7 linked regions of the Homo sapiens genome follow. Changing the gene in region 5 together with the main gene of any one other region gives a genetic interaction. Each region holds a gene or a part of one and is shown on either strand. Other genes may lie near its edges.

What was found.
Region 1: changes in TOP1 (region 5) and CDC6 are lethal when combined (synthetic lethality), as found in Homo sapiens cells (one large-scale study listed by BioGRID).
Region 2: changes in TOP1 (region 5) and PBRM1 together harm fitness more than expected from each alone (negative genetic interaction), as found in Homo sapiens cells (one large-scale study listed by BioGRID).
Region 3: changes in TOP1 (region 5) and NF1 are lethal when combined (synthetic lethality), as found in Homo sapiens cells (one large-scale study listed by BioGRID).
Region 4: changes in TOP1 (region 5) and MTOR together harm fitness more than expected from each alone (negative genetic interaction), as found in Homo sapiens cells (one large-scale study listed by BioGRID).
Region 6: changes in TOP1 (region 5) and FH are lethal when combined (synthetic lethality), as found in Homo sapiens cells (one large-scale study listed by BioGRID).
Region 7: changes in TOP1 (region 5) and LLGL1 are lethal when combined (synthetic lethality), as found in Homo sapiens cells (one large-scale study listed by BioGRID).

What each region holds. Positions count from the first base shown.
Region 1 is NC_000017.11:40,297,879-40,301,378, reverse strand, and holds part of CDC6 (cell division control protein 6 homolog), read right to left. Parts: intron 552-3,500; coding exon 349-551; intron 1-348. UniProt on the Homo sapiens protein: Involved in the initiation of DNA replication. Also participates in checkpoint controls that ensure DNA replication is completed before mitosis is initiated.
Region 2 is NC_000003.12:52,584,914-52,588,413, reverse strand, and holds part of PBRM1 (protein polybromo-1), read left to right. Parts: intron 1-903; coding exon 904-1,061; intron 1,062-1,725; coding exon 1,726-1,989; coding exon of another isoform or gene 1,990-2,001; exon of another isoform or gene 2,002-3,233; intron 3,234-3,500. UniProt on the Homo sapiens protein: Involved in transcriptional activation and repression of select genes by chromatin remodeling (alteration of DNA-nucleosome topology). Required for the stability of the SWI/SNF chromatin remodeling complex SWI/SNF-B (PBAF).
Region 3 is NC_000017.11:31,223,977-31,227,476, reverse strand, and holds part of NF1 (neurofibromin), read right to left. Parts: intron 2,383-3,500; coding exon 2,227-2,382; intron 1,043-2,226; coding exon 793-1,042; intron 260-792; coding exon 186-259; intron 1-185. UniProt on the Homo sapiens protein: Stimulates the GTPase activity of Ras. NF1 shows greater affinity for Ras GAP, but lower specific activity. May be a regulator of Ras activity.
Region 4 is NC_000001.11:11,106,035-11,109,293, forward strand, and holds the end of MTOR (serine/threonine-protein kinase mTOR), read right to left. Parts: coding exon 3,256-3,259; intron 2,253-3,255; coding exon 2,147-2,252; intron 1,467-2,146; coding exon 1,451-1,466; 3' UTR 501-1,450; downstream 1-500. UniProt on the Homo sapiens protein: Serine/threonine protein kinase which is a central regulator of cellular metabolism, growth and survival in response to hormones, growth factors, nutrients, energy and stress signals.
Region 5 is NC_000020.11:41,108,822-41,112,321, reverse strand, and holds part of TOP1 (DNA topoisomerase 1), read right to left. Parts: intron 1-3,500. UniProt on the Homo sapiens protein: Releases the supercoiling and torsional tension of DNA introduced during the DNA replication and transcription by transiently cleaving and rejoining one strand of the DNA duplex.
Region 6 is NC_000001.11:241,513,256-241,516,755, forward strand, and holds part of FH (fumarate hydratase, mitochondrial), read right to left. Parts: intron 459-3,500; coding exon 348-458; intron 1-347. UniProt on the Homo sapiens protein: Catalyzes the reversible stereospecific interconversion of fumarate to L-malate. Experiments in other species have demonstrated that specific isoforms of this protein act in defined pathways and favor one direction over the other.
Region 7 is NC_000017.11:18,232,135-18,235,634, reverse strand, and holds part of LLGL1 (lethal(2) giant larvae protein homolog 1), read right to left. Parts: intron 3,141-3,500; coding exon 3,059-3,140; intron 2,964-3,058; coding exon 2,833-2,963; intron 1,858-2,832; coding exon 1,699-1,857; intron 1,623-1,698; coding exon 1,460-1,622; intron 1,363-1,459; coding exon 1,227-1,362; intron 987-1,226; coding exon 932-986; intron 797-931; coding exon 642-796; intron 547-641; coding exon 323-546; intron 166-322; coding exon 98-165; intron 1-97. UniProt on the Homo sapiens protein: Cortical cytoskeleton protein found in a complex involved in maintaining cell polarity and epithelial integrity. Involved in the regulation of mitotic spindle orientation, proliferation, differentiation and tissue organization of neuroepithelial cells.

The sequences.
Region 1 (3,500 bases), on a different chromosome or scaffold from region 5:
AAAAACTTATCTGAATACCCTATTTCTTCCTCTTTTCAATAAAATCTTTGAACAGGCTTCTGTAGATATTCCCGAAAACCTATACAGTAATGTAGGAAAGGGGCTTTATATATTTCCTAGAGAGATGCAGAAATGAAGGGGAGGATAGGGAAAGGATTAATGATAAACTCTCAACCACAATCCAAGGGAAATAGGTGCCTTTTATATAGTACCAGTATTAATTCTTACTGTTAAAATCCATTTTAAATTTATTATCAGCTGAAGTATCATAGGCCTTTTGGAAAATACCTGCTCTGCAAAGCAGATTCTGATCTCTACCTCCGTTCCATCTGCTCCATCCCAACTTACCTTCCCCAGAGTGACCTCTTTGATTTTCAACTGCCTGATCAAGAGCATCAAAGAGCAAACCAAGATCTTCTGCTGAAGAGGGAAGGAATCTTGTGCTCCTTCTTGGCTCAAGGTCATCCTGTTACCATCAACTTCTGAGATGACTTGGGATATGTGAATAAGACCAACCCTCTTGGGAATCAGAGGCTCAGAAGGTGATTTACCTATAAAGTAAATAAGCCAAGCTTAATTCGATTTCTAAAATACTGTGTGTGTGTATGTATGATGAGACAGATGATACTAAGTTTGAGCTAAAGGAAATTCAAGTATAGTCACATGGTGGCAAAGCAGAGGTTTTAAATCTCTAACCAGAGGCCAAAGGATGAGAGATAATGCTATTCTCTTAAGGATGTCAAAATAATGTGGGATGACTTGAAAAGTAGGGTTACCCTTTCTCTGGGCCAAATAGTGAGCTGTTTTGTCCTATGGAATGTAATTTAATGTCAGAGGAACAAAACCCACCTCATGAAAGGACCAGAGAACTACTGTATTTTTTTTTGGGACAGGATCTCTGTCACTCAGGCTGGAGTACAGTGGCACTATCATGGCTCACTGCAGCCTTGGCTTCCTGGGTTCAAGTGATCCTCCTGCCTCAGCCTCCTGTGTAGCTAGGATTACAGGTACGTGCCACCATGCCAGGCTAGTTCCTAGTATCTCAGAGGTATAGAATAACAGAACCTTGAAGCAAAGATGGTGACTGTGCTTGGTAATTAAGAAAGGAAAAAAAAGGCCAGGTGCAGTGGCTCACGCCTGTAATCCCAGCACTTTGGGAGATCAAGGCGGGCAGATCACCTGAGGTCAGGAGTTGGAGACCAGCCTGCCCAACACGGCGAAACTCCATCTCTACTAAAAATACAAAAAATTAGCTGGATGTGGTGGCAGGCGCCTGTAATCCCAGCTACTTGGGAGGTTGAGGCAGAAGAATCACTTGAACCCGGGAGGCAGAGGTGCAGTGAGCCAAGATTGTGCCACTGCACTCCAGCCTGGACGACAAGAGTGAAACTCCATATAAAAAAAAAAGAAAGGGAAAAAAAAGTTGGAAAATTACCGAATATTTTGGATCAAATGAGTGGCTAAATGTGGAGAGTGAAGTCGCTGCCATGTCAGCCCTTCAGATGGCTTCCCCAAATGACCTTTGAGGTTTGGTTCACTTGCCCAAGCTGATTAGCAGTAGAGCAACACTTGAGAAAATGTCATTGGATATGCTAGCAGATAGCACCATCTTTTTTTTTTTTTTTTTCTTTTTGGTATTTTTTGTAGAGATGGGGTTTCATCATGTTGCCCAGGCTGGTCTTGAACTCCTTAGCTCAAAGCAATCTGCCCTCCTCGGCCTCCCAAAGCACTGGGATTATGGGCGTAAGCCACCATGCCTGGCCAGATATCATCATCTTAATAAAAGCCAGGGGTTGGGAAACTGCCAATAAGCTTCATAAGACTATATCCTTAGCAAACTACTGTAGGAACAGAAAACCAAATACCACATGTTCTCACTTCTAAGTGGGAGCTAAATGATGAGAACACATAGACACATAGTGGGGACAACACACACTGGGGCCTATAGGAGGGTGGAGGGAGAGGATCAGGAAAAATAACTAATGGCTTGAGCTCAGGAATTCATGACCAGCCTGTGCAACAAGGCGATGGGTTTCCCCCATCGCTACTAAAAATACAAAAAAAACAGCCGGGTGTGGTGGTGTGTGCCTGTGGTCCCAGCTACTCAGGAGGCTGGGGTGGGAGGATGGCTTGAGCCTGGGAGGAGGAGGTTGCATTGAGCCAAGATCACGCCACTGCACTCCAGCCTGGTGACAGAGCGAGACCCTGTCTCAAAAAAAAAAAAAAAAAAAAAAAAAAAAGACTATGGCCTTATCGTTTGGAGATGCATGAATTCCAAGACAAAGAAATGTGTTCTGTAACAACCTTTACCTGAAGTTACTTCCTGAAATCACTTGCAGTTGCCCCACAACAATTTACTTCTATAATATTACATTACCACAAAGGGATGCTGCAGAGGACTAATGGAGAAACCGGAGATCACAGATCAAGTAAAAGAATCTTAAAATTGAAAGGAATTTAGAAGTCTATTTTTACTCCCTATCCACTGGCCGAGTCCTCTCTAGAACAATCTCAACAAGTGGCATCTATCCAGCTTTTGTCTGAATATCTTCAATGCTGGAGAACCCACTATGTTTCAAGGAAGCCCAGTTAGTTCTAGTTATTATAAATTTTCTTCTTATATTTAGTTAAAGTCATTCTCCCTATAGCTTTCTGGAGCCCTTGAAAGCCAATCTCAACCTGGTATGGTGGCTCATGCCTGTAATTCCAAAGCTGTGGGAGGCTGAGGCAGGAGAATCACTTTATCCCAGGAGTTTGAGACCAGCCTGGGCAACATAAGGAGACTCCTCCACCCACTGACTCTACAAAAATTTTAAAATTAGCAGTAGCTGGAGCTGGGGAGGCTGAGGTGAGAGGACTGCTTGGGCCTGGGAGGTTGCAGCTGCAGTGAGCCATGATCGCACCAGCCATAATTGCACCACTGGACTCCAGCCTGGGAGACAAAGCAAGACCTTGTTTTACACAAAAAGAAAAAAAAAAAAGAAAGAAAAAAGCCAATCCCGCACAAACCAGAAGTCAAAAGATAGAACTTACAACCTCTTTACCTTTTTGAATTATGTTTGTGTTAGTGGTGCTCACAGGGGCCAGTGACAAGCCTAAATGTTACTGATGGGGAAAAAGGAGGAGGAAAAGGGGATAATCTGAAAAGTTGAAAAGGAGGAAGAAACCAGTATCTAAGTCTATACATTGGTATATATTGCCTACTATTAGCCTAAGCACTATTTTTGGCTACTTCTGAAACATTTTTAATTATTTTATTTTAGCAAATTGATGAAAAAAAGAAAGAATTTCATGCAGAACTATAATGCCAGAAACAATTTTACTTAAACTCCCAGCCAGTGTAGGAGTGAAAAAGAAACAATCAAATCTTACTATTCTGTTTATAAAGACTAACACTGGATATCAAATACTGTAAGATACGTAGTTCATGGCCATTTTACATTTGCCACAACCAAAACAAGGCTGAGGGAATGGAATATTAATTTTGTCATTTGTGATAC
Region 2 (3,500 bases), on a different chromosome or scaffold from region 5:
CTACTCCAGTAAGGAAGATTATGATCAAAAAAGAAATTATTATAGAATGACATGCCTTGGCTTAGCATTTGTTTTCAAAAAGGCTTTCTAGAACAGTTGCCTTTAAATTGAGACATGGAGTATGCATAGAAATTAATGAAGCCAGAAGTTGGTGGAAATGTGATCCAGGCAATCCAGTTCTTTGAGCTGCCTATCACATGAAATACTTTTGTATTCCTTCACCAGAGAGCTAAATATGTCCTTCAGTAGCATATCTGTCCCCTTACTAAAGTGCACAACTCTAGGTATGTACTAACCAGAGCAGAGTGGAGCAGGTCTCATCACCTGTCCTCCTCATTATGTACTTTATATGGCTTTTAATATGAAGAAGAGCCTGGGCAACATGGCAAGACCCCTTCTCTAGAAAAAATAAGAAAATCAGCAGGGTGTGATTGCACTTGCTGTGGTCCCAGCAACTTGAGAGGCTGAGGCAGGAGGATCACTTGAGCCCAAGAGGTTGAGGGTGTATATATATATATATGAGGGGGGAAAAGTAGCATGCATTTTTTAGGCCTCATTACACTTTATTATTTTTGAGTATTATTTCTCCTGTGGATAATTATATTAAACTGTAGCTGTAAAAATAAGCACAGTGCTAGGTTCATGTCATGGCAGAGTGGATTGATGGTGTATTTCCTAATTTTGCAAAGAATGTGTGATTTCTGAGCTGGACACAGTGACTTATACTTGTAGTCCCAGCTACTCAGGAGGCTGAGGTTGGAGGACCACTTTGGCCCAGGAATTCAAGTCCAGCCTGGGCAACGTAGTGAGACCCAGTCTCTTTAAAAAAAAAAAAAAAAAAAAGTGATTTCTGTTAACAATGATTCTCTTTCTCTTCCCCTTCCCCCACCCCCCATTTTTGAGGTGAAAAATGGTTGTATGGCTGTTGGTTTTACCGACCAAATGAAACATTCCACCTGGCTACACGAAAATTTCTAGAAAAAGAAGTTTTTAAGAGTGACTATTACAACAAAGTTCCAGTTAGTAAAATTCTAGGCAAGTGTGTGGTCATGTTTGTCAAGGTAAGAAACTCATTAAATCCCAAAGTCTCACTCATTCCCTAGGAATAAAATTTTAAAACACAGAAAATAATCGATGTTTACAAAATTAGGAACTCTGTTTTAAGCTATTTTTTAAGCCGTGTCTATATAGCTATATGAAAAGATTTGGGAAGAAATTAACCTGAACTTCGTTGTGAAAGACCACTTGCTGCTTACACTATTTGGCTATAATGCAGTTAGGTTAAGTTTTTAATATTGCCAGGCTAATTTTTAAGTATGATGTTTTTTTAAGGATAATCATTACAAATTTTCAGTTTGTTTTTTAGGTAATAATGTGTGCTTTTGTGTGTCTGTCTGATACACACACACAAGCCCTCTTCAAAGCTTTAAGGAACATTATAGCTATATGAAATGTTCATATGTTTTCAAAGAGCAATTGTAAGCTAAATGGAATTATTTGTTTTTATAATTTAAAGGGTGTGTATATAATAAGTCCATTCCGTAGCCAAAGAAATACTTCTAAATCTCTGGTCATTTATTATTTTTTGTTAACTGCCAGAAAGTCTGTAATCAGTTCAGCTTTTGTTTGGTTGGTTGGTTATTTGCTTTTTTTTTTTTTTTTTTTGATTGATTTTCAGAAAATTCACCTAACTAGTTTTATTCTTATGCCCTCCCCACCCCCCAGGAATACTTTAAGTTATGCCCAGAAAACTTCCGAGATGAGGATGTTTTTGTCTGTGAATCACGGTATTCTGCCAAAACCAAATCTTTTAAGAAAATTAAACTGTGGACCATGCCCATCAGCTCAGTCAGGTTTGTCCCTCGGGATGTGCCTCTGCCTGTGGTTCGCGTGGCCTCTGTATTTGCAAATGCAGATAAAGGTGATGATGAGAAGAATACAGACAACTCAGAGGACAGTCGAGCTGAAGACAATTTTAACTTGGAAAAGGTATGCAGATAATAGCCACACAGAAAAAATTTTACATCTCAAAACACCTATTCCAGAAAATAAATGAATAAAGTATTCAAACTTAGAAAAAGAGCAACAACACAAAACCTTAGCCAAACAGGAAGAAGGAAACTATAACAGAAAGAAATTTACACTTTCAAAACTGTACATTATAATTTAAAAGTAAATCAGGCCAAGTGCATTGGTTCACGCCTGTAATCCCAGCATTTTGGGAGGCCAAGGCGGGCAGATCACGAGATCAGGAGTTCGAGACCAGCCTGACCAACATGGTGAAACCTCATCTCTACTAAAAATACAAAAATTAGCTGGGTGTGGTGGCGCGTGCCTGTAATTCCAGCTACCCAGGAGGCTGAGGCAGGAGAATGGCGTGAACCTGGGAGGCGGAGGCTGCAGTGAGCTGAGACCACGCCACTCTACTCCAGCCTGGGCAACAGAGTGAGTCTCTGTCTCAAAAAAACAAAAAATTTTTTTAAAGTAAATCTAAGAGCTAATTATTTGACAAGTCCAATTAGATAAACTGCCAACTATCTAATAATGGGAAAAGAAAGGGGTTAAACTTCGACACAAAATGTGGAAGAAGGCCAGGCGCGGTGGCTCACACCTGTAATCCCAGCACTTTGGGAGGCCAAGATGGGTGGATTACCTGAGGTCAGGAGTTCGAGACCAGCCTGGCCAACGTGGTGAAACCCTGTCTCTACTAAAAATACAAAAAATTAGCTGGGTGAGGTGGTGGGTGCCTGTAATCCCAACGGGAGGCTGAGGCAGGAGAATCGCTTGAACCCAGGAGGCAGAGGTTGCAGTGAGCCGAGATCGTGCTATTGCAGTCCAGCCTGGGCAACAAGAGCGAAACTCTGTCTCAAAAAATAAATAAATAAATAAATGTGGAAGAAATGTAAAGACTGTATATTTCTGCTAATAAATTTGAAAACCTAAATAAAATGGCTAATTGTCTAGGATATTACAAATTACCAAAATGGAATCAAGAAGAGATATAATACAGAATGTACAACAACATGAAGAAATTTTTTAAAGTATCATAGAACTGACCCCAAAGAGTACTGAGGTCAGACAGTTCCATAGGTGACTTTTTCTTTAAGGGACCTATGATTATTATACTGTTGAAGCTGTTTCAGAGCAGGGAGAACAAGAAATTTCCAGTTTGTTTTGCAAAGCCAAGATAATCTTGATTTCACAACCTGAAAAATAAAAACAAAAAACTGCAACTCAGTCTTATTCATGTATATTGATGCAAAAATTACTTGGGGGAAAAAGTAAGTGAAATCAAATTACTTCTTTGAGAACAACATGACCAAGAAGTGGGAATTCATTCTAAGAAAGCAAGAATTGTTCAAAGTTAGGGAGATCTTTAAATTTCATTCATTATTCCATTAGATCAAAGGAAAGATTATTTGGTAGAGAACCCATCTTGATTTTTTTTAAGACTTTCAATAGGTATTTCTTCTAGTGTAATTTTTTTTTAAATTCATATT
Region 3 (3,500 bases), on a different chromosome or scaffold from region 5:
AAACATCAATCAGCTACAGCCAAGTTTCAAACTTGATGTATATTAAATACTCAGATATTATACTTGTAATATGCACGTATCTTGGATTTACTTCAAAAGCTATTCCTGATCACACATATGTAACAAGAGGCTTCCAAATTGAGGGTGGGCGCCTGGGAGGGGTGTTTCTGTTGCTAAGGGCATACCTCAGTGTTTCCTGCAGTGGGATGCTCAATGCGCCTCAGCAGTGCCATCACTCTTTTCTGAAGTGCTGCTCTTCCTAAGCAAATACAACAGCAAATCAAGTTACTGCACTTAGAGCCCTGCCTGCCAATGGAGAACCTGATAAGCTCCACCCAAAAGGAGTAGGAAGAGCAGAGCAAATGCTTCAAATGATAAAGCCAAAAACTTCCTTTCACTAACCTCACAGGAAAGGTACTTATCTTGGACTCTACAATGTCCACAGAATAAAATAGCTATTCCCACCTACAATTTACTCAAAACATACGCCAATGTTTGTAAAACTTCACTATCTACAACTTAGGCAGAGTAAATTACATAATCATAACTGATAGTAACATCTACTGCCAGTTATTTTTAAAATGTATAGCATATTAACAACTCAGTGGAAGACTAACAATTTATTTCAAATGCTTTTTATTTTCATCTTACTTTGTTCAGAAAAGGATTTCAAGTAAGCTACTTGAATTTCCCCTGTAAACTTACAAAGTAGTGACCTTAAATACATTCTCAAAATCAGATGCCATGTGCTTTGAGGCAGACTGAGTAAAAAAAACCACTATTCACATTTACCTGTTGACATCATATTGCTGACAGAGGCAAACTCCATGAATGTGTTATAGTTGGGCAAGAGGTTATGCACTGACACTTCATCCACCCCACACCGGATATCTGCTTCCTCACAGAGGTGGCGGAAACAGGACATGGCAACCAGAACAGCTTCAGTGTCAGGGTTCCACAGAAACATGTACAGGGCCACTTCTAGTTTGGTCTGGGCTTGTCGGCAAATCGGGGGGGTTCCGCTGCATCCTGCTGCACTATCCTGAGAGTCAAGGGTGGAAGACATATATTTGCAACTTGGGTAATTTTATGTATAAAATCTAACAATGCAATAAACTGTGTGTGTGTGTGTGTGTGTGTGTGTGTGTGTGTGTGTGTCTCCGCATACAATAACTCACAAGAGCTTTTTCCTTTAATCATTATAGGAATTTTTCAAACCCCAAAATATCTTGTCCAAATGAGAAATGAGATTATCTGGACCAACATAATGCTACCATCTGTTCAATTTCAAATCAAATAGATATTATCCTATTCCAGATTCCAGAAATGTAAACTGATTCTAACATGGACAGGTAAACACCATAACGTAAATCTACTGCAGTAACAATATAATGTACCTCCCAGTCAATTAGAAATGACAAAAAAAGAGGAAGTAACAGGAAATTCTATCTACTTGCTATAGGGAAGTAATAAAATAAGTACACTGCAGCACTCATTGAAACAAGGGCATAAACAAGAACTAAATATTGCTGTAGAAGATACATTTGATTCTGAATTACTTATTCTCCAAACACGAAATGGAGAAAATAATTGATAAAATAAATGCAAATTCTACAAGTAAAACAGACATTAGTAAATATCATACTGCTTAGGTGTTTCTTCCTTAACAAGGTTGCATTAAAAATTAGGAATGAAAAAAGTTTTGGTTTGGAAAATAAACTCTTCTGTAATGATGTGATATTTTCACTTGAAATATGATTTATATTTAAAAGAAATTATACACACAAACACAAATCACAGAAACACTTATCTTTAACATGAAGCAAAATACTTTGTTTTTATCCCTGTAAATCTGTACCTTTGTTAGCCGGTACGAATTCTATACTTCTGTGGTATGAATGGGTTTTTTATGGAGTGGAGGTTTATAATAATTATAATTATCAGATATAGCTTGTAAGTGTCAAGTGCTATTTACACATCCTTTTATTTAACCCTCTTTAACAACTCTGGGGCAGGAACTATTACTGTCCCCATTTTAAAGTTGAGGAACTGAGGAACAAGGATGTTAAGAACTTGCCCAAAGTTCCACAAAGAGCAGTAATAGAACTAGATTCTAAGCAGTTTTTCACTATTACACTATATTACCTAGATGAAATTTACCAAATTTCATTCAGAAAACAAACAGAGCACATAAAATGATACAGAAAAAGTACAGAAGAAGCTGACCATAGAGGAGTTCCCTTTTCCCTTCCGGAGAGAGGCTCCAGGAGTACGTAGTAATTCTTCATGATCCATGGACATTTGACTGGTATTTCCACTAGAAGGAATATCACATCCTACCCCGTAAAAAAGGAGAAAGTGACAGGAACTTCTATCTGCCTGCTAGAAAAAAATAAATAAATAAGCTTTACTGAAGCACTGACAACCAAGAGGAATAAACACTTATTTGAGTTGTCTTCCTGTTTGAGACTCTCCTAAAAAACCTCTCCTCTCAATCTCTATGCCCCAACTTGAAGGAGATTCACTAGAAACCCATTAGAACAAACAAGGTTTACTTAATTCTTTAAAATTTCTTTCAGTTTCCCATTCTCTAAATCATCAGAAACAGTAGATTCTACAAATATAAATTAAGTCTGACATAAACATGAGTAAAACATCAACAATATAAATCTACTGTATGAAAACTATAATTTGATCTCAATGACAAAGATTTTTTTTCCATAAGATTTTATACTGTGCCATGTTGGGATAACCAGAAATTGGCTCTTGAGATTAAGTTCTTCTGGACCAGTAATTAACTCTGGTATGTATATACACCAAGTATGTCACAAGAGTGACTATGCCTACCAGGGCACTATGAATTCATTACTGGATTCCTCATACTCACATTCTGGAGATTATACCATAGGCGAGGCCATGAAAGTCTGAAGTCTAATCTCTTTCTGTATCTTTGGAATAATGCCAAATTCCACTACATTAACATATCAAATAAGTCACATGTGAATAAACCCACTTCACCATTAGTCTATTTCTAAAGAGACAATTTATTAATAACAAGCTGTAAATACTGAAAAGGATATGAGTTTCATACATTTAAGGTCTTTCACAGCTATGCTTCTAGTACCAGATAAAAACTCATTAAATCAAGTACTCCGAAAACTAGGCCATAACAGAATTCCTAAATTGATTAATTACAGAAACTATATGTTAAAAGAAATTTAAGGCTCTTCTCTATCTTCCACAACCTCACCATGTTTCAATAGTTCAGAATCAAAACATTTCACTCCACCCCAATGAAAAAGTCTCCTGATATTTTCAAGAGGTGAAACCCTTATTGGAGGAATCGAAATAAATCTAGATTGAGGACCCTCAACTGTTTCCCTTTTGCTTCTTGATAGATAATTCTCTGGACTAGTCTAGCCATGAGATCTAGGTCTTTACGATTTCTCAGAGCTATGATTCTAGAACTGGACAAAAACCCATTAAATCAAGTACTCCCA
Region 4 (3,259 bases), on a different chromosome or scaffold from region 5:
ATGAGGTGCAGCCATAAGAAAATGCCAGTTTTGTATATTAAAAATGGTCCACGTACCTGTGATTTCAAATGGTCCAACTGATACTTGCCACTGCTATGGATACCTTGCTTTTACAGCAGTGCCTCACACTTCCTTTTCTGCTGAGAATGCCCCCCCCTTGGTTCATCTGACAGACTCCCACCCCTCTTTAAGACCCATGCCAAATGTCCCCCTTTCTATGGGGCTTTCCAGGCTCACCCGGTGGAATACACGCTCCTACCTGTGGCCCATACATGCCTCTTCTCAGCACTTGGCCGGGGTAAGTTCTGTTCACTTCAGTGGCATGCTGTCTCCACCTGTCTGGCCTGGGAACAGTCTGAGGAAAGGGACCATGTCACGTACACCCTTACGTCCTCTGTCATCCCTACTACAGAGTGTTTACTGAAGGCTGAGTGCTGAAGAGAGTAAATGCTTCCTTTTTGAACTGATCAAAATTATGACTAAAACGCCACTCATATACATATGTTTAAAATTCTGATGTCATTTATTGGCACAAAAATTATTCTGATACAACATGGTGTCTAGACATGGCTACACTTTATACTTTGTGCATTTAGTTGAGTATTTGTTCTGCTCATAATTTCCAATATGTACCAGACCTTCCCTGTGTTCAGCACCTCCATGACAGTATTTCTGTTTTCTGAGCCCTTGCTCTAAACAGAGTATTTTGACCACTGAAAACATCCCAGAACCCTGCTGCAGAAGGCCAGTGAGGGTGGTCCCACTGCACAGTGATCCCCTCTGTGCATCTGCTCAGCCGAGGCTGCCAGCGATCTGAATAAACCTCCCTACTAGCGGTCAGGTCTTGAATTGAAGCGTGTGAGTCGCAGCATCACTGGGTCTGATGGAAGACAGACCTTTTGTACTCATTTTGGCCTATCTTGCAAACATTTCTGCTGCTGTCCACAGACCAGTGAGGTCTTGGGATAGGTGGCAGGGGTGAGGTCAGCATCTTCTGTGTCTTTACAGTCTAGGATCCTAATCCATGTTCTCCACGACCTGAGGCTTCTTGGCTGTGCTGAGTTTGCTGTACCCATGTTGAGAGGAGCAACTAGGTCATTCTTCCATCAGCAAGTACTTATGATGAGTTCTCTTGTGAGTTAAGTCAAAACCCGTATTTCTAAAGTTATGGATCTTCTGTTCCCCAAAATGAATGGCTTGATTTACGTGGTATTACTATGTTTCACTGTCCTGGGAACCAAATCAAGCCTTGTGTTTCTGACAATATATTCTTCAACAGCAGCTAGAAAGTTGGTTCAAACCAACTTTTAATATACAGTAGTTCTTTTCATTTACATTTCAAAATATTTAACAAAGTCAAACTTTCTCACCATGGTTTCAGTTTAGTGGAAGCATTTACTAAAGTACAAAAGCCTCAGAAAAAACGTGATGGGCACATCTGGGCCTCCAGTTACCAGAAAGGGCACCTAAGAAGGCAGAAAGAAAAGGAATATTTTAATAATTTGAGCTTCTTCAAAGGTTTACACAGATAACTTGAAAATGAAAAGGCCAAGGTCTGACAACCCTAGGGTATTCCCTGAGCTCTCCCACAGCTAATTGCATGGGACACACTCATCATTTCCAGTCAAGGCTAATGCCCACCGAGGTCCCGCAAGGACACTTCCCCAGCGCCCGCTCTCTCAAGTTTCTGCCTTCAAGCATGCCTTGGGCAATTAATCAAAGCACACCCCAGAGTGGCCCTTGAGGTTAGACTCCCAGATCATAAATCTGTCTTTTTATCTCCTTCTCTCTGTCACTGCTCTAGCTTTTTCTTTCCTTCGCCCTTCCTGTATCTCTGCACTGGACTGACAGCAAAACCCAAAAGGAACCCCTCACAAACAAACAAGCCTTGCCTATTCTCCTGAACCACTTATCTTAATGTAATTTTAATTTTAGTGTTTGCCTTCCAAGTATGCATCCATATTTCTCAGTTTCTTTTTTTATAACAATGGGCACATGCAGTAAATATGAATTTTTAAAGAGATCTGAGCTCTAACTGCCCTTTACAGATACCTCACCAAATCTCTTTTTGCTACTCTGGCTTTGGGGCCTAGGCTTGGGACCTGATTGCTTATTTTAACAAAGTCACTTTGAGAGCCCCACTCACCAGCCAATATAGCACTGGCAGAGGTTTTCATGGGATGTCGCTTGTTTGATGAGCAGCTCAACTTGCGTTGGAACATCCAAAGTGTCATCATGAGAGAAGTCCCGACCTAGCACAGGAGGAACAAAAACATTTCACTCTCTTCCTGGCAATCGATGCACTTCTTGTTCCCTGTGGGCTTAACTGTCTATGCCAACAGCTTATCGTCAGACATGAAGATGAAGGATACCATCATAGTTGGATTTGAAAAGTTTGGCCAGGTGCGGTGGCTCACGCCTGTAATCCCAGCACTTTAGGAGGCTGAGGCAGGCAGATCACCTGAGGTCAGGAGTTCAACACCAGCCTGGCCAACATGGTGAAACCCTGTCTTTACTAAAAATACAAAATTAGCCGAGTGTGGTGGCACATGCCTGTAGTCCCAGCTACTTGGGAGCCTGAGGCAGGAGAATCACTTGAACCTGGAAGGTGGAGGTTGCAGTGGGCCAAGATCGCACCACTGCACTCCAGCCTGGGTGACAGAGCAAGACCCTGTCTCAAAAAAAAAAAAAAAAAAGAAAAGAAAAAAAGAAAAATTCGGCCGGGTGCGGTGGGTGAATCACTTGAGGTCAGGAGTTTGAGACCAGCCTGCCCAACATGGTGAAACCCCATCTCTACTAAAAACACAAAAAATTAGCTGGGCGTGCACCTGTAATCCCAGCTACTCGGGAGGCTGAGGCAGGAGAATTGTTTGAACCTGGGAGGCAGAGGTTGCAGTGAGCCAAGATGGAGCCACTGAACTCCAGACTGGGCAATAAGAGCAAAACTGTCTCAAACAAACAAAAAAAAGACATGATTAAAAAACACTTCTCTGAATTTGGCTGATTTTGGACCCAAAAGAAATTTATTCACCTCCTGAGTTAAATGAGATTAAACTAACATTAAGTACTGTTATCAGTCATCAGAAAGAAGAATCAGAGACAATGTTTAACTGATGACCTCAAAGACACTCTTTGTCAGCTGCATGGTGCCAAAGCTCGTCACTAACACCACTGGACATGGGGCTGACCACCACTCAGAGAGGAAAGTGTGCTCAGATTTTATGTCCCTTTTAAGTAAACACATGACACACTCACCAGT
Region 5 (3,500 bases):
CCATTCCCACATCAATTTCACAGCCTTGCTGCCAACTCTGTGACCCAATAGCAGTTTTCTACCAGGACTGAATTCCATTAAATCTAAGTGAATTCCATTAAATTACAGTGTGGTGGAGCTGTCAAAGAAGCAGAACCAAAGACTACAACATGTAATTACTAAGGACACAATGACTTCCAGGAACAGCCATAATTATTCACCATTTTCTAACTTCTGCATTTAAAAGCATTTCTTGATGAGATTGAGAGAAACTATGTTTCTGGGAAGCCTTTAAAAAAATAAGAGCTTTTGGTGGAAGGGTTAAAAGTTGATTCTAAACCCAATGAAGGGTTACTAAAACCATGTGAAAACTGAATCTAAACAATAGTGAAGAAGACTTCTGCTACCAAGCTGAATGAAAATAGACTCACAAGCAAGAGCCAATTATGACAAGTGAGAAGGGGAAAAAAATTCAAGAAATCCAGAAGCAGGGAATTACATAAAACAGCATAAAACAGACTAGATGACATAAACATAGAGAAGGAATTTAAGAATCCAAGAATCTCTGCTCTTAATTTCCCCACCCGCAACAAAGGAAAGTGGTAGTGATTTCTGCCCACACATGCCTGGTTCCTGACTATGACGTGGACCCGTGGTCCTTGAGACATAAGACCTGTGGTGAAGATAACCAGCCTTTCAGCCTGGGCAACAGAGCATGACCCTATCAAAAAAAAAAAAAAGGGGGCGGGGGGTGGGGTGGGGGCGCAACCAGCCTTCTGGGTGTGCAGAAGCATGAGATACCTAGAGCAAGAATGTCTTCCACTTCTCAATCCTAAAAGTACTCAGAAATTAAAAGCTTACACAGTTAAGCTAAGGAGTCATCTGCACTCTCACATCATGTGTACCAGTGTTATGCACTTGTTTGGCTACAAGAGTTTCAGTAACTACCTGCTATCATGGGTGGGTGATTTAGTAGTTGGTGACACAGAAAAAATACCTAAGTCTTAGTACATTTTGACATTTAACAGGGTGAATAAGAAAAGGTGAGATATAAGCTGTCCTCATGCACAAGTCAGTAGTAAATCTCCATGACAACTGTTCTTACACATGCACGGAAAAATTGGACACAAAAGGCTCACCTTCAACAGTAGAGTACCCAACTCTGGAGTGGCCTCTTTCCCCTCACTCTAGTGCACATGGACTACCAAAGCCTGTCTCAAAGTCCCCTAGGGTTACGTTTGCTCAGTTCCTTAGTCACACCACTGGAATGTAAGGTAGGAGTCAGGTAAACGAGATTTAGAAAAACCCAACCCGCACGTCATTCACAGGATACTACCAGACCAACTTTTCTTCACAGGCTGGCTGGGCTTCTGCACCAAGGATCTAGGATTCTCTCAAATAAGCTGAGATGGAGGTGGAGGCAGAAGCCACCCCGCTTAGATCCAGCAGGAGATGGCTGGCCTCCAAGAAGTATGCTTGTCCCTGCAGTGTTCAATGCCCTGAACAAGCTTTCTTGACTACTTTTAGAAAATAAACTATCCACCTAGGTCTTCCAGGCAAGGTCTCACAAAACCATCTCAAGAAGACAAGGAATCCACTGGAGAAGGCTGCCTTTGACCACCTCTCCTCTTTCCCTAATTCAATCACACTTCAGTAATGGGTAAAAATCTAATTTAACTGATTGTAGATGACATTCTTTGGATGACTTTTTAAAACTAGTAGGCCCACTATATTGTCTCTCTAATATAGCTGCTATCCATTCAGCAGAGTGGTTGGGTGGAATCAGGATCTGGATTCAAGATTACAAAGTTGGGGGTGAGAAGGCAAATTGGATTCTGTTTTCTAGTAACTTTCTCAGACGTTTGTAATGGGGAAGAGGACATTTGCCAGTATTCTTACATGACTATTTCCCTTCTCAGTCAATTTCCACCAAGCAACCACTGATCCTTCAATCTGATTACTATCATCATGGATAAATTTTGCCTAGTCTAGATTATATAAATAGAATCATACAATATAGACTCCTCTGTCTGCCTTTTTAACTTTTTTTTTTCCCTCTGAGACAGCGTCTCGCTCTGTCACCAGGCTGGAGTACAGTGATGCAATCTCGGCTCAGTGCAACCTCTACCCCTCAGGTTCAAGCGATTCCCATGTCTCAGCCTCCTGAATAGCTGAGATTACAGGTGTGCGCCACCCTCGGCTAATTTTTGTATTTTTTTGTAGAGACGGTGTTTCGCCATGTTGGCCAGGCTGGTCTCGAACTCCTGACCTGAAGTGATCCACCCGCCTTGGCCTCCCAGAGTGCTTGGATTACAGGCATGCACCAACCGCACCTGGCCCTTAACCATGTTTTTAAGATTCATCCATGTTGTTGAATACATAAGTAGTTCCCTTCTTAACTGCTGATAAATATAGTATATTCTATGACTATACCATAATGTGTTATCTATTCTGGGATGTTTCCAGTTTTGCACTCTTATGAATAGAGCACTGCTATGAACATTCTTGTACAAGTTTTTTCATGGATAAATGTTTTTATTTCACTTGAGGTAAAAATACCTAGAACTGGAATTCGTATCTCCCTGTGGTTAAATCTTCACTCCACTGATAATTAGTGATGTCGAGCACTCTTTCATTTGCTTATTTATTGACCATTCCTGTATCTTCTTTTGTATAGTATATGTTCAAGTCTTTTGCTCTTTTTATTATGCGGATGGGATGTCTGTTTTTTTATTATGGAGCTACAGGAATTCTTTGTATAGTCTGGATATAAGCCCTTTCAGATAAACATGTTGCAAATATTTTCTTTTAGTCTGTAAATTCTGTATTTATTTTAGCAGTGTCTTTTGTTGAACATAAATTTTTAATTTTAATGAAGTCCATTTAGTCAATTGTTTCTCTTGTTGGTGTTTTTCTGTCCTAAGGAATCTACTCTAAGGTCATATTCAACCATGATATCACCTACAAGCTTTAATATTTTAGTCTTCACACTTAGGTCTATGTTAGTCTTACTAATAAATAGATTTAAAACGTTTTGAATTTTATACCAAGATGCCAGGCTCAGAATATATATATATTTTTAATGAGCTTGTGTCTTATTTTCTCTAATAGAACTCACCAAAATGAGAGCTTCCCAAGATGAATATTGTAAAGATACTTTCCTTCACATTTAGCCCTTTAATCCCTAGGTGGTTACATATAAAAGGTTGTAAGCACATACATTTTTGGAACCCCACAGAATTCTAGACTCTAAAGAGAAAAAAGGCAGAAGTGTGTATTTGGCACTGAGAGTATTTTAACAGGACTAAACGCAATACGATGTCAACATTGATCCTAAAGTTTGCTGTACTGCATTTGAAAGAAAAATCATGATGATAAATTCTGTTTGTAAGGTTAAGGCTGGTTTGAAAAAACCTGAATTTTACTAAGGGCTACTTTCCCTGGGTTGTGAGAGCAGGTAATGCTTCCAAACTTGGCAGTGGATTGTACTTAGCAGTGAGTACCCATAAGCAGCCTTTTTG
Region 6 (3,500 bases), on a different chromosome or scaffold from region 5:
TATGCATTATCAAATAATCAACTGGTTTTAAAAAGATTTATATATAAAATAAAAAATCAAGTAAAGTTCAAATGATATCTTTTCAAAAAATTTTCTTAAAACTATATAAATTAAGGAAAGTCAAAAGGCTTAAAAACAAAAGGTATAAAATCATCCAGAAATTTTGTCACAATGTAACGTTTTAAGCACCATATTAATATCACCACTAAAAATAATGCTACCACCCTCCCCTGAAATTCATTAATTCAAGAATTCACAGTTCCCCTTTCCTTCTGCCAGAGCATATCGTCATCCAGAGTATGGCATGGGTCTGAGGTTATTAAGCAAACACACTTATCACCTCCTACCTCATCTGCTGCCTTCATTATTGCATTAGCAATCTTTGGATCAAGACCATAATCCTGGTTTACTTCAGCGGCCGCTCGCTTCAAGATGCCAAAAGCTTTAATAACTGGGGTCTAAAATTAATCAGAAAAATATTTCAAATTTACAATTTTACTTAAGCATGGAAGTTTATTATTTTGGCAGATGCAAAAGCTATACATAAAACAATAACAATAAAACAGTAACACTATAGCTCTAAAATGTTTCGGTTATAGAGAAAGATTATAGACAGGAATTCATGAACCAAGAATCAACATTATCATAGATCTATTTGTTTAAGGAACCAAATAAAAACAAATACATTGACTCTTCATATATATATGTGTGTACGTCTCCCACATACATATACACACATATTCACACGAATACAATCCTATGCACAAATACACACAATAAATTATATGTGTTTATTTCATATACTATAAATAAAAACAAATTTAGTACTCAATCTTTTCACCAGCAAGAACCATTATTTTCTCTTACTGGATCCCACGTTACATTATAATTGTTTCCTTCCCCTCTTAAAAAAATAAATAAATAAGGGATATATTTAACTGCCAATCAGTATGAGACTACCAGTGACTGACTGGGTTATCATTTCACCCCAAGGCCAAAAAGCAATCTATTCTACTTAGCTAGTAAAGCCTTAATACTCAGTAACTCCCTGGACATTTCTCTCAGAAGAATTATTTTTTTAAACCCAAGATTCTCCAGACCTAAAGGTGACAGCTTCCGATATATATAAAACCCCATTAATGCAGATATTTTCATTGTCTATCCCAAATCACCTCACCAAGCTTGAAAAGGATAAACTGAAATGAAAACCTAGTTTTTATAAGACAAGTGAATTGTGAGTTCTTGTCAAAATTAATAATACAGATTGTTGTATAGATCCCACACCAGGTTTGAATGGGGAAAGAGTAGAAGGGAGAAAGGGAAGAAAGGAAGAGAATGATGAATGTATAAGAGAGAACCTGCTATCTCTGGAATCAAAGTAGAAAAAGCCAAGAAAAGTAAGAAATAAGACACATTAAAAACATAAACCTGGACCAGAGTAAGTATAAGCTGAGGGTCAAATAGAAAAGGAAAACCAGAAAATTTGAAATTTCAATTTTAAGTAACTAAAATTAAAACATTAGAAACGTTTGACTCAAACGAAATGAGGACAGATGGCACACAGGATTAGAAACTTAAAAACTTTAAACACAAAAACAAATGGGAATTTAAATCTCCACAGTAACAAACACTGAGGTAGTGGGCTGAACCACTACCAAGGGCAAAGGTGAATGCCAATCAACGCTGGCCATCTGAATGGAGTGAATGACCCCCAGTGTTTATGGACCATAAAAATAAAAAAGGGTCATTCACAGCAGAAAGAGGTTCAACGAACACCATAAAATGGCAAAATGTATCACTAGAGAGAAAAGACAGGTCACTTTATTCTTAATTTATTCACATTAGATGTTCATAATCTTTTTAGCTTTGTTTTCCTCTGGACCTCAAGTAAAAAGGGTTGAGTTTAATCATACTACTCAGTTTAGAGTACATACAGACTGTTTTACACATAATAAAGTTCAGAAAGTATGACAAAATCGAGACCCCAGGTGTCTGCCTTTCACAGGTGTGCAATCCCAATGGCTGTGCTGTCTCTGGAGCAGCAGCAGCAGGAACCATGCCCCACCAGAACCACAAAACATGCTGGTGACACAGATCAATGAAAACGGCAGCCATGCTCACTCCCACCAACACTAGCTGGGGCTGACCTCCTCCTTAGTCTCTGGAGTTGAATAATATGAGATTATTTTAGGATTGGTCACTACCCTTTTTCACCTAACCACGTAGTCAAACTATGTTTACCTCACCACCAAGAAGGCTGTAGATGGCAATGACAAAGATATTCTCATCAAAGATTCAGCTGCCTGTTGTAAAGTTCTATATACCTGTCAAGAGGCAGTCTTGAAGGCTTAGGAATGACTTAAAATTATTGAAAATAAAAGCATATTTATAAGATAAGTGTTAAACAATATCTCACAGGATGAAGCCTATCTACTTCTAGGCTTACTAGCCTATCCTGCATTGACTATTTTTCATACTCCGGTTGGGCTCCCGTAGAATATGTTATGCATTTCTCAATTCTTTTCACACTTTAACATCTCTGAAATCAAGATGTATCTTGTAATCAATGGTAAGTCACAACCTTAATTGGTAGCATTTTTCTTTCTTAGTGGTGCCTATTGGTGCATCTTCTAATTAATGGCATCTTAAATTTAATTGAATGTGGTAGAAAGTTTTCTCATCATTTAATCATTCATATGGAATTGAATAAATACTTATATATTATCTATTATATGTCAGACATGGTTAAGAGTAATACTTTGATGTGTTTGTGTACTATACACTTTTTAGGAAACTGAAACCAAAATACAAAGTGTAATTTTAAAAAATCTCAGTTTTAAATTAGTGGGGGAAAAAAGAATGAGTATTGAAATAAAAATATTTACAAACTGTAGAACCCTAGTAAAAATCTGTAAATACCCAGCAAGAGTGAAAAGACAATCATTTAGTTCTGCCAAATAAAAATCCAAAATAACTATTCACAATAGCAAAGACATGAAATCAACCCAAATGTCCATCAATAAAGGATAAAGAAAAAGTTGTATATATCCACCATGGAATATTATGCAACCATAAAAAAGAATGAGATCATGTCCTTTGCAGAGATATGGATGGAGCTAGAAGCTGTGACCCTCAGCATACTAACAGAGGAACAGAAAACCAAACCCGCATGTTCTCACTTGTAAGTGGGAGCTGAACAATGAGAACATATGGACACAAGGAGGGGAACAAAGCACACAGGGGCCTGTGGGCGGAGGGGGAGCAGCAGAAAAAATAGCTAATGCCGGGTTTTAATATCTAGGTGATGGGTTGAGAGGTGCAGCAAACCACCATGGCACACATTTACCTATGCAACAAAACTGCATATCCTGCATGTGTATCCCGGAACTTAAAATTAAATTAATTTTTTTTTTTTTGAGACGGAGTCTCACTCTGTCGCCAGGCTGGAGTGCAGTGGTGCGATCTCAGCTCACTGCAACCTCCGCCTCCCGGGTTCAAGC
Region 7 (3,500 bases), on a different chromosome or scaffold from region 5:
GCCTGAGTCTCCTGGCACCTCTGCACCCACCAGGCCCAGGATGGGCTCTCCCCCAACAGCAAGGGGCCCACTCACCCACATAAGCACGCACACCTACCCCGTCAGCAGCAGCCCTCGCTGTGACGGCTCCTGGGCCAGGTTTCGGCCCCCAGTGATGGGCCAGCTCTGGGAGGGGGTGGCAGAGATGTATGCACAAGGTTAGGACGAACATCTTCTCCCTCTCACCCCGAGTATGGCACATTCTGACCTCCGGGCTTAGAACTGAAACTCTCCCCCTCCTCAAGACTCCACCCTGTAAGACCCCCCTGATCGCCGCACACACCAAGGCACTGGAGACAGGCTGGGGGCTCTGCTGCTCGCCAGCGCTCACAATGCGGGCCCACAGCTTGGCGGGGACACTGGCCACGTGGGCCGAGCAAGTGATTGCAGAGGAGTGCAGCGGGGCCAGGTATGGGGCAGGCACAGCTGGCCAGCCAGGAGTCTGCAGGTCCAGCACCACCAGCTCCTCTTCCAGCAGCACAGCCAGGGCCTGGGGGTCATCAAATTCTGTGGGACGGAGGGAGTATGGGGTGAGCACAGCCATAGGTGGCAGAGGGCACCAGGTGGGGCTGGGAAAGGGTAGGGTACGGCAGGGCACGCACCATCCTCGGGCCGTGTGCTGTGCACTGTGAAGAAGTCGATGATGCGGGAAGTGAAGTCCAGCGTCACCAATGTCTCGGCTCGAAGCACACTTACACAGTGGCGGTCACCATAGCTGGCACGGGGCATGCCACCGCTGAAGATGATAAAGTGGCCCCTATGTGCAGAGGGAGGTGTGCGAGCCATGAACCACTTGGGTCCAGAGCACATACTGCACAACCTAGGGAGAGCCCACCCTTCCAGCCCCCTAGCCAGACCCAACTCACATCGGACACCCACTCCCTCGACCTACCCAGATTCACAGTTCCGCCACAGAATCTTGTTAATGGCCTTGCAGGGAAAGGGGCCTGAGGGGTGGGACAGCGTCAGACCAGACTCACTGGTGGTTCTTAGCAATTCTGCCATTCCTGCTCTGCCCTCCACTGCTCTCTACCTTACAGCTGCCTCCTGCCTCCCCGGGAAGTCGGCGGGAGACACACTGCCCCCAGACCACCCCCTCGGGGAAGTCCCTCCTCAGCCAGTTTGGCTTGGCTCAGTGGTGCCCCCTCCCATCACCACCCTCTGGCTAAGGTGTCCCCAGCACTCACCGTAAGGTGTGGTGGCTACCGTGGGCTGCAGCGTTGGGAAGCTGCCGGCATCCACAGACCAGACAGCATAGCTGCCATCGCTGTGTGAGCTGACCACAGTGCTGCTATCACGCCCCCAGCATAGGCTCTCCAGCTGCTGCGGGCAGGCAGGGGCAGGCAGGCAGGCAGGCATGAGCCATGGTGGGCATGCACAAGGGGCCCAGGCTGAGGGGACACAGGCCTCACCTACATACCTGGTTCCCCAGGAAGATGTGGTCCACACACTGCGAGGCCTGGTTCCAGATGACCAGCAGGCCCCGGCTGTAGCCAATGAGAATCTTTGTGGGGTCCCGCAGGTGTCCCTGGAGTGACTCCACGGGGCCCAGTGCCTTCCCACAGCGGTAGTCGTCTGGCACGCTGTGGAGGAAGGCAGGTGAGCCAGCAGAACTTCCCGGGCACACAGTGGGTGCTGGGAAGCCCACCGGCCTCTTACCTGCGCAGAACCTCGCCTGGGGCAAGCGTCTGCCCCTCGAGCAGGGTCAGGGTGGTAACATCCAGGAAGAAGACACTGCTGCCCTCAGTGCCCAGGGCTGCTATGTCGCTGGCAGCCACCAGCAGGACCACTGTGACTCGGGTAAGGCTGAGCGGAGCACTGCAGGGAACAAGGGGAAGGGAGTGAGGGTACAAGCCCATCCACCTGCTCAGGTGGGGTGTGAGGGGCTGGGCCACTGCTGATAACTCATCACTGGCCCCACAGCACTCACCAGGGCCTACTTACAGAGCCACCCCAGGAAGACATGCATCATCATCAGCCCGCTCAATTATTCATCAGGATGTCAGCAGGGAGATGGATAAAAATAGGGTCCCTAGGTCTTGCAGACTGGGCTCCCAGCTCCTCCCACCCACCAGGAGAGGACAGCAGGAACCAGGGCACTGCCCAAGCCAGGACCAGGAGCTCCCCGCTGAGCCCCTCCTAGGAATCCCGCTGCCAGCGCTCAGACATCTCCTGACTTCGCAGGAGGGCCCCAGATACCCCCATCTGCAGAAGCTGGGAGGCATCAGGAATCCATCCCTGGGTTGGTACTCCCCTTTTCCAGCTATTTCAGGCAGGGCTGGGGAGAGAGATGCCCCACACTCTCACTCAGCTGGGGCATGCTGCCAGCGCCTTACCAAGCACAGCCCATGGGACCCTCCTTGCCCTCAACCCTGCCTATGCACAGAAAGGCCTGTCTCCCACCCACAACTGAAGAGGCCAGGGGACCCTTCCTGTTACTAACTGGCTTAGGCCCTGCCCCAAACCCCTAGACACCCCCATCATTGCAGTAAGTGTAGTGCCAGGCCTCAGGTCCTAGAAGTTTGGCATATAATGCATGTACCTCCTGCTGCTCACAATGTTAATTACCTGCTCACGTCGGACTCAACCCAAACCTCCCATTTAACCTGAAAAGTTCAGAGTATACCTCAGTAAAGCAGGGTCCAACAGCTGCAGCCTGGGACCCAGGCCCAGCTCAAGGCATCCCGCCCTGAACCGCTGCCCATCTCCATGCTGCCTTTGCACAGCAGGTTCCCACAGCCTCCCCCAGATCCTCCCTGCCCGGTGGCTGGCCCCAGCCAAGTTCTCCAGTACCTGGCACCATCAAAGCCGGGCCGGCTGGGCAGCTGGAAACTGAGTGCTTCTTCCAGGTGGGCACAGCCATTATGGTGGACAATCTCCCAGAGATGCAGACTGCTGTCATCAAGCAGGGACAGGAGGCGGCCCTGGTGTGTGAGCAGAGATGAAAACTAGGCTGGCCTAGGGGGATGAGTAGATATGGGGGCCACAGGGAGCTGGCTAGTGGGAAGCAGAGGCTCACCTGGCCGGTCAAGAAGTGCATCTGTGTGACAGTGGCTGCATCCCGGTGCAGGCCTGTGAACTCCACGCCAGGTGCACCATAGCTGAGGGTGGCAGGTCAAGGTGGAAATAGGCATAGACCAGCAAACCACAGTGAGGAAGACACCCAAGGCTCCTCCTTGACCCGGACTATTCCAGTGGGCCCCGGCATGGGCCTGACCATCCAGGAGTCCTCCCTGAAGAACGGAGGCCCCCTCCCTAAAGCTCCCACTCTGCACCCCTACAGTATCCCCAAGATCAGTGTGCAGGCTCCACTCACTCCTGCAAGTCAGGTGCTGCTATAGGACCTTCACTTCCCGTAAATTGGGCCAGTGACTCCCACTTTACAGGACTGTTGCAGATCAAGTGAGAATAAACACACCCAGCAGGCTTGGCCTCAGCCTGGTGAGAGGATGGGGCTCCGC